Regions from separate parts of the Homo sapiens genome. Here region 2 is linked to region 1. The links come from fine-mapping of genetic effects on gene expression. A gene starts in region 1. The other region holds a variant in brackets. All regions are shown on one strand. Distances are between the middles of the regions. Region 1 holds the start of SMIM5 (small integral membrane protein 5). Region 2 overlaps ITGB4 (integrin subunit beta 4).

Evidence for each region. PIP is the estimated chance that this variant, and not a neighbour inherited with it, causes the effect.
Region 2: its variant is the best candidate, but not a certain one, in a credible set for the expression of SMIM5 in lung (TOPMed, PIP 0.74).

The regions. Positions count from the first base shown.
Region 1 is chr17:75,630,313-75,638,312 of GRCh38, forward strand. It overlaps SMIM5 (small integral membrane protein 5), which reads left to right and starts at 3,122. Exons shown (of 3, transcript NM_001162995.3): 1 at 3,122-3,890. It overlaps RECQL5 (RecQ like helicase 5), which reads right to left. Exons shown (of 20, transcript NM_004259.7): 9 at 1,138-1,356; 10 at 838-937; 11 at 662-698; 12 at 467-525; 13 at 307-380. RefSeq lists enhancers at 2,194-2,874, 2,875-3,554.
Region 2 is chr17:75,724,549-75,733,055 of GRCh38, forward strand. ITGB4 (integrin subunit beta 4) reads left to right here. Exons shown (of 40, transcript NM_000213.5): 2 at 146-234; 3 at 2,647-2,729; 4 at 2,856-2,957; 5 at 3,103-3,307; 6 at 3,829-3,925; 7 at 4,717-4,888; 8 at 5,693-5,956; 9 at 6,327-6,416; 10 at 6,698-6,820; 11 at 7,264-7,425; 12 at 7,615-7,691. The coding sequence starts at 156. Among named protein-coding and RNA genes, the nearest start is that of ITGB4, 7.3 kb to the left of the region's middle. RefSeq lists an enhancer at 3,904-4,404. The variant G/A (reference allele first, on the strand shown) is at 4,312.

The DNA of each region.
Region 1 (8,000 bases):
TGGGCCTGGGCTTCTCCCTGCTGAGCTCTTGCGGGACTCCAGGCCTGGTGGGGTAGGCCTTGGGCACAGGGATTCTGATTAGGGCTCTCTGAGCACCCTGTGGCTTACTGTCCCTCAGCAGCTGCTGGTAGCACCTAAGTTGTAGCCATGCCTGGCCCTGGTGGGGTTGTAGGGGCAGTCCCCTGGAGTAGGAGAGGTACAATCTGGGGAGAGGTGGCCCAAACAGGCCAGGGTTGACAGGGTCCTGCAGTCTCCAAGGGAACGAGAGCTTGGAGTGCTCCTCAGCCCAGTGATCGTGGAACTCACTCATCAGCGGTACGTGTTGACTGGCGGTTGCTGCTCAGCGCCTCCTCCAGAAGCCGCAGGCAGTGCTCCCGTGCCTGGCACAGGACAGTGAGACTGGTCGCATGGCCTCGCGGCTGGGGGAGGGCCCCGGCGGGTGGCTGAGGAGCTGCCCGTCTCTTACCTTCACAGTCAGCCTGGGGATCCTCCTGCTAGAAGCCTCTTTCAGGGGACAGTTCTCATCTGTGGGGGGGGGGGGTGGTCCTTGGTCCTTTCGCTCCACCTTCTGCGCTCTGAGGTCCCCCACAGCCCGGATGAGAATCCTCCCTCCATGCCCCGGGAAGAGCCCACAAGCCTCCAGGAACATTTCTGTACTGACCTGGGGGTACAAATTCTTCTATCTTGGGGTCTTTGCCCTGGAGGACAACATGAAGGACCCATGAGGCGTCCTGCCCTGCCGCAGGACAGTCCCATCCAGCACCAGAGAAGGGGCTGAGAGGTGCGAGCAGGGGGCCACCAGGGGCCCCACACAGGCCACTGAGTGCCTCCCCTCACCTTGCGCAGCTGCATCTGCTTCTGATAGAAGAGGTTCCACTCCCGCTTGTGGGCCTCATCTCTGCCTTCATCCCCGCTGCCTCCAGAACCTTCGTCATACCTAGGGACAGGCCAGGCGTGAGTGGCCCTGGCCTGGGCTCTGCCCTCCCCATGTGTGCTGCTGCTAGAACGGCAATGTCCCTGATGTCCTACCAGCTCAAGGGGGGATTGCGGCATCGTGCCACCTCTGGTCTGGCCCTGGCGCCAAGGGAATGCCAGGCAATTCCAGCGGGTTGGAGCCCTGGCTTCTCGGCCCCTTACCTGCTGAAGTCCCCGTAGCCCTTGCGGCCTCCCTCATACAGCTCGGGGTCAAAGCCGTTCCCCTGGGAGGGCCCGATGCAGGTCTTGCTCCAGCTGCTGCTGCGCTCCAAGGCCTCCAGCCGCCTCCGCACGGCCGTGGGGTTCTGGCAGTGGTCGCAGCCTTTGGCGCAGGCAGGCAGCGCATCCCCGAAGTACTTGGCAATGGCGGCATGGCGGCACCTGGAGCAGGCAGCACCGCAGAGGTGAGGGGCGGAGAGCCCAGTCGGCCAGCGTCTGTTCACCCGAGCCTGAATCGCTAGCTGAGCGAGCACTGCCGCGTCCGGCACCATGCCGGGAGCCCCACACCCCTCATCTCATCCAAGCTGCACCAGGCATCGTTTGGCTCTCCCCACTACACAGATGAGGACGATAAGGTGAACCAACTTTCCCAAGGTCACGTAACACATGGGGGTCTCCCGGGAAGCAGGATGTGAACCCCACTCTGTCCAGTTACTCCTCTGCTCCTCCCCTCTGTCCTCTGGCAATGGGATGTAGATGCTGGCTCTGCCATGAAGGGTGTCTTTTGGGTGACACACTTCACCTCCTAAAGCCCATGCATTCCCGTCAGTAAGATGGTGCAGAAAGGCACAGCCCTCACGGACTGAGCGAAGATGGCTGAGGTGATGTCTGAAGTGCATTACAGTACAGTCATGCCCCATGGAATGACTGCACAGCCAATGGTGGTCCCCTACGATTCTAACACTGTATTTCTACTGTACTTTTTCTATGCTTATGTGTGCTTAGATATGTGAATACCACTGTGTTACAACTGCATACGGTACTCAGGACAGTAACGTGATGTACAGGTTTGTGGTCTAGGAGCAACAAGCTGTAGCGCATGGCCTGGGTGTGTAGGAGGCTGTGCCGCTTGATATTTTTTTCCTTCTCTTCCCTGGAATTGCTGTTTGATTTCCCTAAGTATACTCTGTGACCGCACAATGACAAGTTAAATTTCTCAAAACGTATTTGCATTGCTAAGGCAGGCACGGCTGTGTAGTAATATGTCCCATCATCAACCCGTGAGGGTGTCACAGGTGGGGCCTTTAGCCAGGGAGACGCAGCCTCGCCTGGAGTCCTCCTCTCGTCTTCCTCTGTCTCAACCCTGCTGCAGCCCTCCTGGGGTGAGCGGCCTCTGCCCATGCTGGGAGCAGGGAGCAGCCTCTGGCTGGCCCACGAGGCTCTGTCGCATCTCTGTTCCCTCTGCATGGGGGTGGCTGTCGACCCTTGGGGCAGCTGCAGAGGCCGCAAGAGGGGCCATAGCTCTCTCAGGCTCCTTATAAACAGCCATTCCTGCCACCAGGAACGTGGCACAGGGTAGGGAAGCCCAAGAGGAGATGCTGGAACACAGGCAGGGCTGTCTGGGGTGCCACATCCCAGGGACAAGAATAGCTGGCATTAACTGCTCTAACTAGAACTCCTCCCAGTGTGAGCACTGCTGCGGCTGCAAGAAGCCCTTTGAGGGGCTGCGACCCCAAGGCGCAGGCTCAAGGATGCAAGGCTGATTGCAACACCCCGGTAAGGAAGCAGGGCCTGGCTGACTTTCTTTTAGCTGAGTGAATGCAGCTCTGAAGCCTGACCTGGGCTGGGACAGCCGAGGCGGCCACCAGAGGGCGCTCCTGCCCCCACTCTGCTCCAATGAGTAAATGCAACAAATGGTTCATCCCCAGGAGTCCGTGCGCCCGCACAGCGGCCGCCTGTCCAGCCTCTGGGAGGCTCTGGCATCCGAGTGGTGTGACCACATGGCTGGCTTCCTCCCCCTGCCCTCCTCAGGCCCTGACTCACTGGGGTTTTGTGCTCGGACTCAAAGAGCTCCATTGACAGCGGGGCTGGGGTCGGTTTCTCTCCACACAGCCTAGCCTGCTGGGAGGCACAACCAGGCAAATGTCACAGGGCCCGGCCCCTGGACTCTGGAGCCCTGCCCTGACAGCTGGGCCAGGAGTGCGGTCACAGCCCCAGCAGAAGGCCCTCACCTCACAAGGAACATGAGGCGCCTTGCCGGGCGCGCAGGCCACTCCCAGGTCACTCAGGATTCCAAGTTCTCCCCCAAGACGCCTTCAGATGCTGAGCGGCACAAGGGCCTCCCCAGGGACTGGTTGCAAAGCCTCCTGCTCAGCTTGAGAGGGCCACCAGCTCCCCACTGTTTACTGTTGTTCCTGAGAGAGGCCAGAGGGAGGGACCAGCCAGGGAGTGGCCAGAGGGACAGAAGGGGTGGCCTTCCTGAGGGCAGGGTGGGTGCCCCAGACCTGAGAGCGCTGCAGGACTCCCCTCCACAGGCTCAGGTGGAGCCTCCCCAGGGTCCTCCTGGCCAGGAAGGCAGAGAGCCGACTTCTTTCTTCAGCTCCCAACCCAGGCCCAGCCCACGGCGTGGGAGTCGGGGAGAGGGAGAGGAGGAGGAAGGAGGAGGAGAGAGGGAGCTTGTCTTGTCCCTGAGCAGCGCTCTCAGGGCAGAGGTGAGGCACCGGGACATGAAGTTGGAGGACAAGTTCCCAAGCAGGGCTTCCTCGGGCTCCCCCTCGCGACGGTAATTTGACACTTGGATCTCCAGGACGACCAACAACAAAAAAGCCAGGCAGAGACAGCAGCTGGCTGTCAGCAGAGGAGCTGGGCTGAGGCGCCCAGGGGAGCAGCGGCGCCCACGAAGGAAGTACGAGGACAGCACGTGGAGGCTCCGCGCTGGGGCACTGCTGCTCAGCCCCCAACACCTGAGCTCCCAGGTGAGTGGCAATGGCCACAGAAGAAGGGGGGACAGGGAGGGAGCAGCAAGGGTCCCCTGCCCCCAGGGTGAAGGGCCACAGTCTACCATAAACACGGAGAGGTCTTCGGGGACATGCTGGGTCGCTTCCCTGCAGGGAAGTCAGCCAGCCTCCTGCACACACCTGCACTCTCCCTGCTGCTGGGACCCTGCACTAGGGGAGGGCTGGGGGCTCTGCTCAGAGCGCCTCCTGCTCCGCCTGCTGTGCAGCAGAGGGGCCCCGAGGGCCTGCTTATTCTGCAAGTTCATTTCAGCTCTTTTATTCAGGGGGCTTAAAAGAGGGATTTGGCTGTCCAGCTTGGGAGAGAATGGCTGCCGGCCTGCTGAGCCTCCCTTTTTCCCAGGATTAGGGCAGAGCCCTGTCGAGGTCAGCGCAGGGTCTGCCCAGCCAGCATGCGGCGCCCCCAGGATGCAGCAGGACTCTGCCCATCTGTGTCCTTTCAGGGGCTTGGCCCACTCACTGCTGGTGTTCTCAGCTCACGGCTCAGCCTGGGTCCTCCTCCCTGGGCCCATCTAGAACCCCATAAACTCCTAGATCTCCCTCTGGTGATGAGCCTTGAACACCAAACCAGGAACCTGGAGGACTGACTTTCAACTCAGGCTCAGGTGGGCAGAAGGTCACAGAAGTGAGGCTGGGAGGGACCACGCTGGCAACCGGGACCTCTGCTGTGCCACCGTGATGCACAGGCTGACATGACACCACCCCTAAGGAAGCAGGACCCGGCTGTTTGGTTCTTTGGGGAACACTGAGAGCAGCCCTCCTGGGCAGGGCCCGTGAGCCGAGGCTGCCTACTCCTCCTGCCGCCCTGTCCTCAAGCCAGCGTTAAAGCCACCACCCCCCATATGTTTTCCTCAAAGCAAACAAGCTGGCATCTAGTGAGAAACAAAAACAATGACCCAGGGAAATGTGGAAACCAAGGACTAGCCCAAGTGTTCTCAGCTCAGCAGAGGCTGGGGGCTTCGGCTGGGGCTGGTGTCTGGGGAGACAAGCTCCTGCGGTGTTGGGAGGCGCACAGTAGGGAAGAGTCAGGCCAGGTCGGGGTCGGGGCACAGCGGTGAGCCTGGAGACCCCAGTGGCTGTCACTCACAAGACGCCCCAGGCAGGCAGGTGGGGATCCCTGTCCTGCATCCACAGGACACGAGTGGACAGGGTCTCTCCAACACAGTCCCTGAACCAGGACGGAGGGTGAATGAACAGCCAGCTTCTGTAGCTGCAGAAAGAGCGCCTACTGTTTCTAACACCAGCAGCAGAAAGCGCTTCCTCCCGCCCTGGGTGGCTACAGGAGCAGGGCCTGCCAGGGGTTCAAGCACCACTTTCTACTTCCAGTTGGAGCCAGGGCAAAAAGGGGAGTCACCCAAAGGCTCAGTGCCACAAATAGGGGCATCCCCCCCGGCTGCTCAGGCACAGGACCCTGCAAATCTCCCACAAGTGTCAGTTATGCCTCCTTCTAGGTGGACCTCAAACGAGATAATGCCCAACAGGGCAAGGGTGACTAAAACCCACCATGACGAAACAACAGGGCAGAGCAAGCAGCCCTCTGGGGCCCCGCGCTGCCAACACACCTCGCTTATCAGTCTCAAACACGCCGCCTGCTGCCAGCCCTTCCTCGTGAGGCGCCTGGGGTTGGAGTATCAGCTCTGCGAGGAGGAAACAGGGAAGCTTCGGGACCAAGTGGCAGCTGTCTGGCCTGCGGGATGCCTGCCTGTTGCAAGGCTCCGTGTGCCAGGAGATGCCACATAAAGGAATGCTTCCCATCCCTCCGGCTCTGCCAGCCTTCTCTGCCCTGAGTGTTTCCCCTGTGCTGACCGCTACTGCAGCCAGGGCACACCCTCTGAAGGCTCCAAGCAGGGCTGGCTGGGCAGCCTGGGCAGCAGGAGGGCCTGGTGGCAGCTGGGCTACACTCCCTCTTAAGGCCAGAGGGAGCCACCACTTGCTCTGGCAGCCACTCAGGAACCCCTGAGGACCCTGAGAAGCCTCCAACCAAGGCACTACTGAGCGTGGGGTTGGGAGGGACTCTGGTTGCCCTGGTTCGCAGGTGGGCACTACCAAGCGTGGGGTTGGGAGGGACTGGTTGCCCTGGTTCGCAGGTGGGAAGTGTGGTTTTGGAAGGAGTTGGGTGAACCTGAGATAGAAAGACGGGAAAAATATGGGATCATCAGTAGCCCTCCTGGGCTTCCCTGCCTTCCTCCTGCCAAACCTAGGAAGGGAAAGGGGAGGAGAGGTGGCCAGCCTCAGAGCTCCCATGTTCCCCTCGCCACAGCTGGGAACACTAAGGTTCCCTTAGGAGCAGCGGCTGGGGCACATGCCACACAGTCACCTGACGGCTGCTGGTTATATTGGGCACCAAGTGTCAGGCACTCCTTGGCCTGGCTTTAAATAGCCCGCTGGGAAGACCACCTGGGGACCGGCTGGAATGCGCCTCCTCCTCTTTAGAGAACAGGACCCCTCAGCTCCCCCACCTGCGCCATGAAGGTTCAGTCGCGGGTTTACGCTCCAAATGACAAGATATCAACTGCAAAACAAAGGGGGTCCCGGGGTTCCTCTCCAGCTCTCTGGGGGCAGAACAGCCACGTCCAACGGTCCTACTTCTGCTCACTGTGTGACAGGATACCGTGAGTACCCCTGGGTCAGACCCTGGGGCTGGGTGAGGCTGGCCATGCCTGGCTGGCAAATTCAGCTTCCAGTCAGCCCCCTAGGGAAGCCCTGGGCGCAAAGCTATGACACTGTCCACAGCCGCAGCCTGCTGCTGCTGGGAACTGACACTTTTCCCCGCTGGAGGCCGGGGTCCACCCGGCATGAGTCTGCAGCTCTCCCACTTTGCAGCCCCTGGAGGAGGCTGGCCAGAGCTTCTCAGCAACAAACCCCACTTTTCCTGCACCAGTAAATTCAGCCTCAGTCCAACCTTCCTCCTCCCTGTTCTGGTGAGCACAGCCCCAGGTCTCTCGCTCACAAGGAAAAGTGCCCCCTGCAATCTCTCCCTGGGTCTCTGGGTGTGGCACAAGCGAAAAAGCTCTCCCTGCCCGCTCCCTCTTTGAAGGAGTGTCTCTGCTGGGCTACATTAGGCCGTGTGGGCACAGTGCCAGTCAGGCTGAAAACGCCAGACCAAGTGTAGACAGAGAGGGAGGGGAGAAAGGCAGCCCAGCTCCTGAACCACGCGCAAACTGTCCCGTAAGGGACACTGTCGGCATTGTCGTCCCTCTAAGAATGAGGGAACCTGGAAAGCTGGGGCGTGAGGATGGCACGGAGGTCCCGGAACCAAGAGGGGACCACTGTCCTTGTGCAAGCCTGCTCCACCTGGCCAGAGAGAATGTCCCATTCAGTCTGACCAGAGGGTTCAGTCCTACACTCAGGCTGGCTAGACTCACAAGACCTGTACCTGTGGTGACAAGGACTCCAGGTAGTCTCAAAGAGCCTGGTGTGGCCCCGGCCTGGTGGTGATATGCTGATAAAAGCAGCTTCAGATCCACAAATGTGGGCTGGGGCTGGCCGAGCACAGCCAGCTGGCTTCCAGGGGGCTCTCGGGCCCTGGCTCCTGTACTGAGCCCACTGCACGGGCAGTACCCTCAGCGGGGCTGCTCCTGGCTATCTTGCTGGTCTAAGCTGGAGACAGGCCTCCATGGAGAGACAGCGTGGGGCACCAGTGGGGGTGCTGGCTGGGGCCCTGTCCTGCTGTGTAACCTCAGAGAAGTTGCTTGCTCTCTCGGGTCTCAGCTTCCCCACGTATAGAAGGAAGGAGGCGGGAGCGGATGATCTATAGCATTCTAGGACCCTATGCCTCTCAGTACATTTGAAAACTGAGATCCTCACCTCCACAGAAACGCACTCACTCCAGGTGAGGTGTGAGAAGCTGGGTGGATCTAACTCAGGGAACCCACGGCTTTTGACAAGAACTCATCTAATTTTCCACGGAGCCATCTTCTGCCTGCTACCCTCATCATCACTTAAAAAAACAGCTCCCCAGGCCGGGCGCAGTGGCTCACACCTGTAATCCCAACACTTTGGGAGGCCGAGGGCGGATCACCTGATGTCAGGAGTTCGAGACCAGTCTGGCTAACATGGTGAAATCCTGTT
Region 2 (8,507 bases), 94 kb after region 1:
AGGGCCCTGCCTCTGGCGGCTGGGCGCCCTTGGTCACATTGTTGGTGCTCAGAGCCTCAGTTCCCACAGCTGTGCAGCGAGAGGAAGCTGACGGCACCGACCATGGCTGTGGAGGCCTCATGTGTCAATTGTTGCTGTTCTGCAGGAGGAAGAGGATGGCAGGGCCACGCCCCAGCCCATGGGCCAGGCTGCTCCTGGCAGCCTTGATCAGCGTCAGCCTCTCTGGGACCTTGGGTGAGTCCACGTTGCCCTGCAGCCCCCTCCTGGCAGGATCATCCCTTGGGCAGGCATTGCCCTTGCACGGGGATCTCACGGTGTCTCACCTAAACACGCTTGGCCATTCAGCAACTGACCACTGCCCACCTTCAGGGCTGGAAAACTTGAGGCTCCAAGCTCTTCAGCCTAGAGAAGCTTGAGCCCTGACCACGGGGCCTGAGAATAGGAGCGAAGGAGGCTGTGTCTAGAGGAAAGAGGAGACACCCACCCAGGACTGAGGCACCCAGAGGATGCACTGAGGCCCCAGAGGTGTAGTCAAGAGGGTTATAGGAATTTGGAGAAGAGAGGCACTGCTGACGTGTCACTTGCTCTCTGAGTGTCACTAGTGGACAAATCACTGGAGCCAGCTCCTACCACTTGAATTTTGTCTGTTAGAGGGGGTCCTGCTGGTGGCTTGAAATAGACCACGACAGAAATGTTTACACCACAGAAATTGGCAAACGCTACACGTCAAGCACCAGAGACCAGAGCCGTTGTTATTTTTTTATTTAATTCAATGTATATGTAGAAACATGCTCTCACTCTGTCGTCCCGGTGAAATGCAGTGATGCCATCGTGGCTCACTGCAGCCTCAACTTCCCAGGCTCAAGCAATCCTCCCACCTTAGCCTCCCATGTAGCTAGGACCACAGGCATGCACCACCATGCCTGGCTAATTAAAAACAATTTTTTTGTAGAGACAGTCTCACTATGTTACCCAGGCTGGTCTCAAACTCCTGAGCTTAAGCAATCTTCCTACCTCGGCTTCCCAAAGTGCTGGGATTACAGGTGTGAGCCATCGCACTGGCCACCACAGCCATTGTTAAACACTGACCAGCACACCATTGCCTGAAGCCCAGGAGACCTCTTACTGTGTACACCAGGTGCACACAGTAGGTCCTCACTGTGATTTTTAACTGAGCAGAGCCAAAGGGAAATCTAGAGTTTTACTTCATTCGTTACTGAGGACCCACTGTGTGCCAGGTGTGCCGGGTGCTAGGGCTACCGTGATAAACAAGACACCATTCCCTTCACCCTAGAAGGGGCTCAGAGGACAGACAGGCCATGTGGCAGTGGTCTCGCCGTGAGGCACAAGCTGTGATGGAGGAGGTACCTGAAAAGGGTGCTAGGTGCAGCTCATCAAAGGTAATGGGGAAGGCTGAGGACCGTCTGGCTGGACCTGAGGAGGCAGCAGGCCAGGGGGTGGCCAGGGTGTGCCAGCACCGAGTGTGCCAGTGCCACTGTCTCAGTCCCCACCTTCTGTCCTTCTGGCTTGAGTGGGAAGTCCCAGGTTTGAAATCACAGCTTGTTTCTAGCTGTGCTACCTGGGGCAGATCACATACCCCTGGCCTCTGTAAAATAGGGAACGGCTGGGTGCAGTGGCTCACGCCTATAATTCCCAGCACTTTGGGAGGCCAAGGTGGGAGGATCTCCTGAACCCAGGAATATGAGACCATCCTGAGCAACATAGGGAGCCCCTGTCTCTACATAAAATAAAAAATTAGCTGGGCTACTTGGGAGGCTGAGGTGGGAGGATTGCCTGAGCCCAGGATGTCGAGACTGCAGTGAGCTGTGATCATGCCACTGCACTCCAGCCTGGGCGACACAGCAAGACCGTATCTCAAAACTAAATAAAATTGAAATGCAGGTTGGGCACAGTAGCTCACGCCTGTAATCCCAGCACTTTGGGAGGCTGAGGCGGGCAGATGATTTGAGGTCAGGAGTTCGAGACCAGCCTAGCCAACATGGTGGAACCCCATCTCTACTAAAAATACAAAAATTAGCCAGGCATGGTGGTGCCCACCCATTATCCCAGCTACTCGGGAGGCTGAGGCAGGAGAATCACTTGAACCTGGGAGGCGGAGGTTGAAGTGAGCTGAGATCGCACCACTGCACTCCAGCCTGGGCAACAGAGCAAGACTCGTCTGAAAAATAAAGTAAAACAAAATAAAAATACAACAACAACAACAAACCAAAATAAATACATAAGGCCGGGCCCGGTGGCTCCCACCTGTAATCCCAGCACTTTGGAAGGCCAAGGCGGGTGGATCACAAGGTCAGGAGATCGAGACCATCCTGGCTAACACGGTGAAACCCTGTCTCTACTAAAAATACAAAAAATTAGCCGGGCGTGGTGGCGGGCGCCTGTAGTCTCAGCTACTCCAGAGGCTGAGGTGGGAGAATGGCGTGAACACGGGTGGTGGAGCTTGCAGTGAGCCAGGATCACGCCACTGCACTCCAGCCTGGGCAACAGAGCGAGACTCTGTCTCAAAATAAATAAATAAATAACATAAGGAGGGAATCCCCATCTCTCCAGGTGAAGGTGCAGGTGGGAAAGTGCTTGCCTTTGCTGAGCGCCTCCCCATTCATGTGCCCACATCTGTCCCCCCAGCAAACCGCTGCAAGAAGGCCCCAGTGAAGAGCTGCACGGAGTGTGTCCGTGTGGATAAGGACTGCGCCTACTGCACAGACGAGGTGAGGACCTGGCCCGGGTTGGTGTGGAACAGGCAAGGGTCGGGAATAGCTGGTGGAAATGAATCTAGGGTTGGGGCAGCCAGGGAATGGGTGCTGCCCCCAGTGACCCCCTGTCCTTCTGGCCAGATGTTCAGGGACCGGCGCTGCAACACCCAGGCGGAGCTGCTGGCCGCGGGCTGCCAGCGGGAGAGCATCGTGGTCATGGAGAGCAGCTTCCAAATCACAGAGGTGCCTGGTGTGGGGACTGGGGTGGGGGCTCCCCATGCTCAGCCTGGCTATTTATGGGGGTGTATAGTGCCCCTTGGCCGGGCTGGGCCCCCATCGGGCCTCCGGAGTGACCCTCTAGCCAGCTGTCCCCTTCCACTGGCTGCAGGAGACCCAGATTGACACCACCCTGCGGCGCAGCCAGATGTCCCCCCAAGGCCTGCGGGTCCGTCTGCGGCCCGGTGAGGAGCGGCATTTTGAGCTGGAGGTGTTTGAGCCACTGGAGAGCCCCGTGGACCTGTACATCCTCATGGACTTCTCCAACTCCATGTCCGATGATCTGGACAACCTCAAGAAGATGGGGCAGAACCTGGGTACGGCAGGGCCAGAGTGGAGGACAGCAGGGCAGGAGGGGGACAGGTGGGCGTCTGCTTGGGAGGCCAGGACTCAGGACAGCTGCACCCACCCAGAAGGAAACACTGGACATTTGAGCCCCCAAAAACCTTCCCTTCCATTCTCAAGGGAAGAATCTCGGTCAGACCCTACTCACCACTGGGGACTTCTGAGAAGGCCCAGGGCAGGCGGGCAGTGGAGCCATCTGGCCCTGACAAGGAGGGCACCCCCTGCCACGAGGCTGTGGGGAAGCTTCTGCTCCTCAGAGCTGGGCTGCATTCCCAGCCACCCTGCCCTTGCTGTACGCATAACTCCAGACCCCCAGTCCCATTTCCCTCATCCATAAATAGGAACAGACAATGTTGTGAGCATGAACCTTTGTCCAGCATGCAAAGCGTTAACCTCCCTCTTCCTCCCTTCTGAGCCAGCCCTTGGTGGGGGGCCCGTGTTTATGCCAGGCATCAGGGCTCAGCTATCCCCTCTCTGTCCTTTTGACATCCAGCTCGGGTCCTGAGCCAGCTCACCAGCGACTACACTATTGGATTTGGCAAGTTTGTGGACAAAGTCAGCGTCCCGCAGACGGACATGAGGCCTGAGAAGTAAGTGACTGTGTGGGTCCCGCAGGTGGGCAAGGGTCCAGGCCATGTGACCCCCACTCCTCTTTCACCCACAACTTAAAATTATCCTTCTACGGCTGGGCACGGTGGCTCATGCCTGTAATCCCAGCACTTTGGGAGACCAGGGCGGGCAGATCACCTGAGGTCAGAAGTTCAAGACCAGCCTGGGCAACATGGCAAAACCCCATCTCTACTAAAAAATACAAAAATTGGCTGGGCGCGGTGGTTCACGCCTGTAATCCTAGCACTTTGGGAGGCCAAGGCGGGTGGATCACGAGGTCAGGAGATCGAGACCATCCTGGCTAACACGGTGAAACCCCGTCTCTACTAAAAATACAAAAGATTAGCCAGGCGTGATGGTGGGCACC[G/A]GTAGTCCCAGCTACTCGGGAGGCTGAGGCAGGAGAATGGCGTGAACCCGGGAGGCGGAGCTTGCAATGAGCCAGGATTGCGCCACTGCACTCCAGCCTGGGCGACAGAATGAGACTCTGTCTCAACAAAAAAAAAAAAAAAAAAAAAATTAGCCAGGTGTGGTGGTGGGCGCCTGTAATTCCAGCTACTTGGGAGGCTGAGGCAGGAGAATCACTTGAACCCAGGAGGCAGAGGTTGCAGTGAGCCAAGATCGTGCATACCGCACACCAGCCTGGGTGATAAAGCGAGACTTGGTCTCAAAAAAAAAAAAAAAAATTCTCCTTCTAGTTGAAACGAGCCAGGGGCACTGGGGTCTGCGGCGTCTTCCCCCTGTGACACTCTCTCTCCCTCCCACCTCTGCCCAGGCTGAAGGAGCCCTGGCCCAACAGTGACCCCCCCTTCTCCTTCAAGAACGTCATCAGCCTGACAGAAGATGTGGATGAGTTCCGGAATAAACTGCAGGGAGAGCGGATCTCAGGCAACCTGGATGCTCCTGAGGGCGGCTTCGATGCCATCCTGCAGACAGCTGTGTGCACGGTGGGCACTGGGAAGGGTGCTGCCAGCCTAGGCCAGGGGTGAGCACTTCTGGGCAAGGGCCTGAGCTGCCCCCTGGCCTGCTCTGGTGCCAGGCTCACAGGCCCTGAGGGAAAGCCTGGGAGCCTGCAACCCCTTCACCCTGAGACAAGCTCAGACTCTGTGAGTAGGTCTCAGTTACAATCTGAGTTCAGATGTGCCTGGAGCCACGGTCCCCTGGCCTGAGCAGTCACAGCCTGGTTTCGTATCAGCTACCAAGGCAGACCTGGGCTTTAGCGTTCTGGAATCTTTAGTACCCTGAACCCACCAGCTGCCCAGACTCCACCTGTTCTGGGCATCCAAATAAGCCATTTCCTTTGATATGTACATCCATTTGTTCATTCTGAAAATGACATACCCATATTACTAGGTTAGAAAACAAAGAGCTAGCCAAGGCGTGGTGGCTCACACCTGTAATCCCAGCACTTTGGGAGGCCGAGGCGGGGGGATTGCTTGAATTCAGGATTTGAGACCAGCCTGGGAAACATGGCAAGACCCTGTCTCTACAGAAAACACAAAAATTAGCTGGGTGTGATGCACGCCTGTGGCCCCAGCGCCTTGCGGGGGCCGCATCTCCAGCTCCTGTTTCTCAGCGTTGTCACTCAGTCATGTGCCGTCAGATGCATCTTTCATGAGGGCACTTGCTGTGAATCCAGTGGCTTAAGCCCAGCCCCATGTTGGGACCCGCGTTCCCCGTCCTACACGACGCCGTGATGCGTGTCAGCAGGCAGCCTGCTCAGTGGGCACGCCCCGCCTTGCCTTCCCCAGAGGGACATTGGCTGGCGCCCGGACAGCACCCACCTGCTGGTCTTCTCCACCGAGTCAGCCTTCCACTATGAGGCTGATGGCGCCAACGTGCTGGCTGGCATCATGAGCCGCAACGATGAACGGTGCCACCTGGACACCACGGGCACCTACACCCAGTACAGGACACAGGACTACCCGTCGGTGCCCACCCTGGTGCGCCTGCTCGCCAAGCACAACATCATCCCCATCTTTGCTGTCACCAACTACTCCTATAGCTACTACGAGGTGCGGGGCCCAGGTCCCACGGGTGGGAGGTGGTCAAGGTAGGGGGTCCATGGAGCTTCTCAGACACCTCTCCCTCCCTCCCTCCCTCCCTCCCTCCCTTCCTCCCTTCCTCCCTCCCTCTTTTCCTCCCTTTCCTTCCTCCCTTCCCAAAGCCTTTAGACCCCCCAAAATGTGGGCCCTAGTGGGAAGGGGAGGTCATGTGCCCATCTTCCACCCCAACTCCCAAGCAGGTGGGGGCTAAGAGGGCAGGCTCTGCGACACCACAGTAGGTTCCAGGCCTCAGTTTCCCCATCCTCAAAGTGGGAAGAATCCTAGAGCTGTTCAGATTCATGGAGATGCTTAGCCTGAGACCTGGCCTTCTCTCCCGCAGAAGCTTCACACCTATTTCCCTGTCTCCTCACTGGGGGTGCTGCAGGAGGACTCGTCCAACATCGTGGAGCTGCTGGAGGAGGCCTTCAATGTGAGGGCAGCTCAGGCTCCAGAGTCTGAGCCCTTCTGGGGCAGGGCAGGAAGTGGGCAGGGTGGGCAAGAGGTGTCTTGGATCACGGTGGAGAAATGGGTCTGGGACAGACCAGTGAGGAAGGGTCTCTAGCTATCCCTGAGGCCCCGAGGGGCCACCTGGGCCTGGCCCTGGCTCCTGCAGGCTCTGTGATACCCCGCATGATGCCAGCCACACTTGGAGGTTGGGGTGGAGCACAGAGGCCCCCCACAGAGCACTGATCAACCTCCTTCCTCCTTTAGCGGATCCGCTCCAACCTGGACATCCGGGCCCTAGACAGCCCCCGAGGCCTTCGGACAGAGGTCACCTCCAAGATGTTCCAGAAGACGAGGACTGGGTCCTTTCACATCCGGCGGGGGGAAGTGGTACGCCTCTGTGGGGGCAGCGGGGTGGGGGATAGGCACAGCGCCCCACACCGAGTGGAATCGTTTAAAACAGCGGTCAAGAGCGTGGCCCCTGGAGTCAGGCAGGCCTGGGTGCAGATCCCTGGGCCTAGCCGCTCGGATGAGCCTAGGTTGCTCCTCTGCTTGTTGGTTTCCTCGGCATGCAAGCGTCGAGCCCGGAGGCTTGCTGGGGCAGTAAATGGGTTAGTGTCACGAAGCCCAGAGGCCCTGGCCACTGTCATTGTCGCTATGATTGTGACTGCGCTGGGAAGGAGGGAGTTTCCAGCCCTGAGGGAGGTGAGCAGGAGCTCATTTCAGGGATCCAGACATCTCCTAGGAACTTGGGGGCCGAGGGCCTTCAGGCATCGATGGCCCCCTGGTCCTTGGGGCTGGGCCTGCCTTGGCTGACCACGGGGCCCCTGCAGGGTATATACCAGGTGCAGCTGCGGGCCCTTGAGCACGTGGATGGGACGCACGTGTGCCAGCTGCCGGAGGACCAGAAGGGCAACATCCATCTGAAACCTTCCTTCTCCGACGGCCTCAAGATGGACGCGGGCATCATCTGTGATGTGTGCACCTGCGAGCTGGTACAACGCAGCCCCGCAGGGCGGGAGGGGAGAGCTGAGCCAAGCACCCAGGGACCCTGAGGAATGAAGCAGGACTCCTGTGCCCCATATCCCTTGTGGGGTTTCCCGAGGCACACAGGAGAGCGGAAGTGTCCAGTGGCCCCGGTCCTGCTCCCCCGACGCACCCCACCATGGTCTCTCTCATTCCAGCAAAAAGAGGTGCGGTCAGCTCGCTGCAGCTTCAACGGAGACTTCGTGTGCGGACAGTGTGTGTGCAGCGAGGGCTGGTGAGTGGGGAAGGGAGTTGGGCACCCAGGACACCAGTGGCCCCTGATGGGAAAGCTGGGCTCCTGCAGGGGCCTGGCCCTGGGTGCACCTTGTACACCTGGCTGGGGGTGGGGCGGCAATCAAAGAAACGGCTAAGGGCGGGGCACACCCAGTTGTTGGTCAAACCCAGGTCAAAGCACTTTGAAATACAGAGATATATGGGCTGTCTCTAGAAAGAGGTGTGAGGATTGAGACGGGGTTGGCTGTTGGGGCTGGGGTCTGGATCTTGGGGGACAGGCACACGAGGCTTCCTTTTTGCTCCATGCCTTTGGTATTCTGAGTCCTGTGTCATATTGCCTGATCAGAAGAGAGCTCGTAAATGCACGGCAGTAAGGGCTTTAGCTTCAGGACACTGGGCGAGCTTGCCACAACTTGAGGCAGAGCAGTGGGGAAAGGACACTGGAAGGGGTGACATGACAGGGCACTGGGGTTTAGGTCTCAGCTCAGCCACTTCTGTCTGCATGACTGGGAGCTGCCTCGGCCCTCTCAGAGCCTCAGTTTCCTCATCTGTAAAATGGGACAGCAGGCCAGGCGAGGTGGCTCACACCTGTAATCCCAGCACTTTGGGAGGCCGAGGTGGGTGGATCACCTGAGGTCAGGAGTTCAAGACCAGCCTGGCCAACATGGTGAAATCCCATCTCTACTAAAAATACAAAAAAGTAGCTGGGCGTGGTGGTGCATGCCTGTAATCCCAGCTACTCGGGAGGCTGAGGCAGAATTGCTTGCACCTAGAAGGCGGAGGTTGCCGTGAGCTGAGATCGCGCCACTGCACTCCA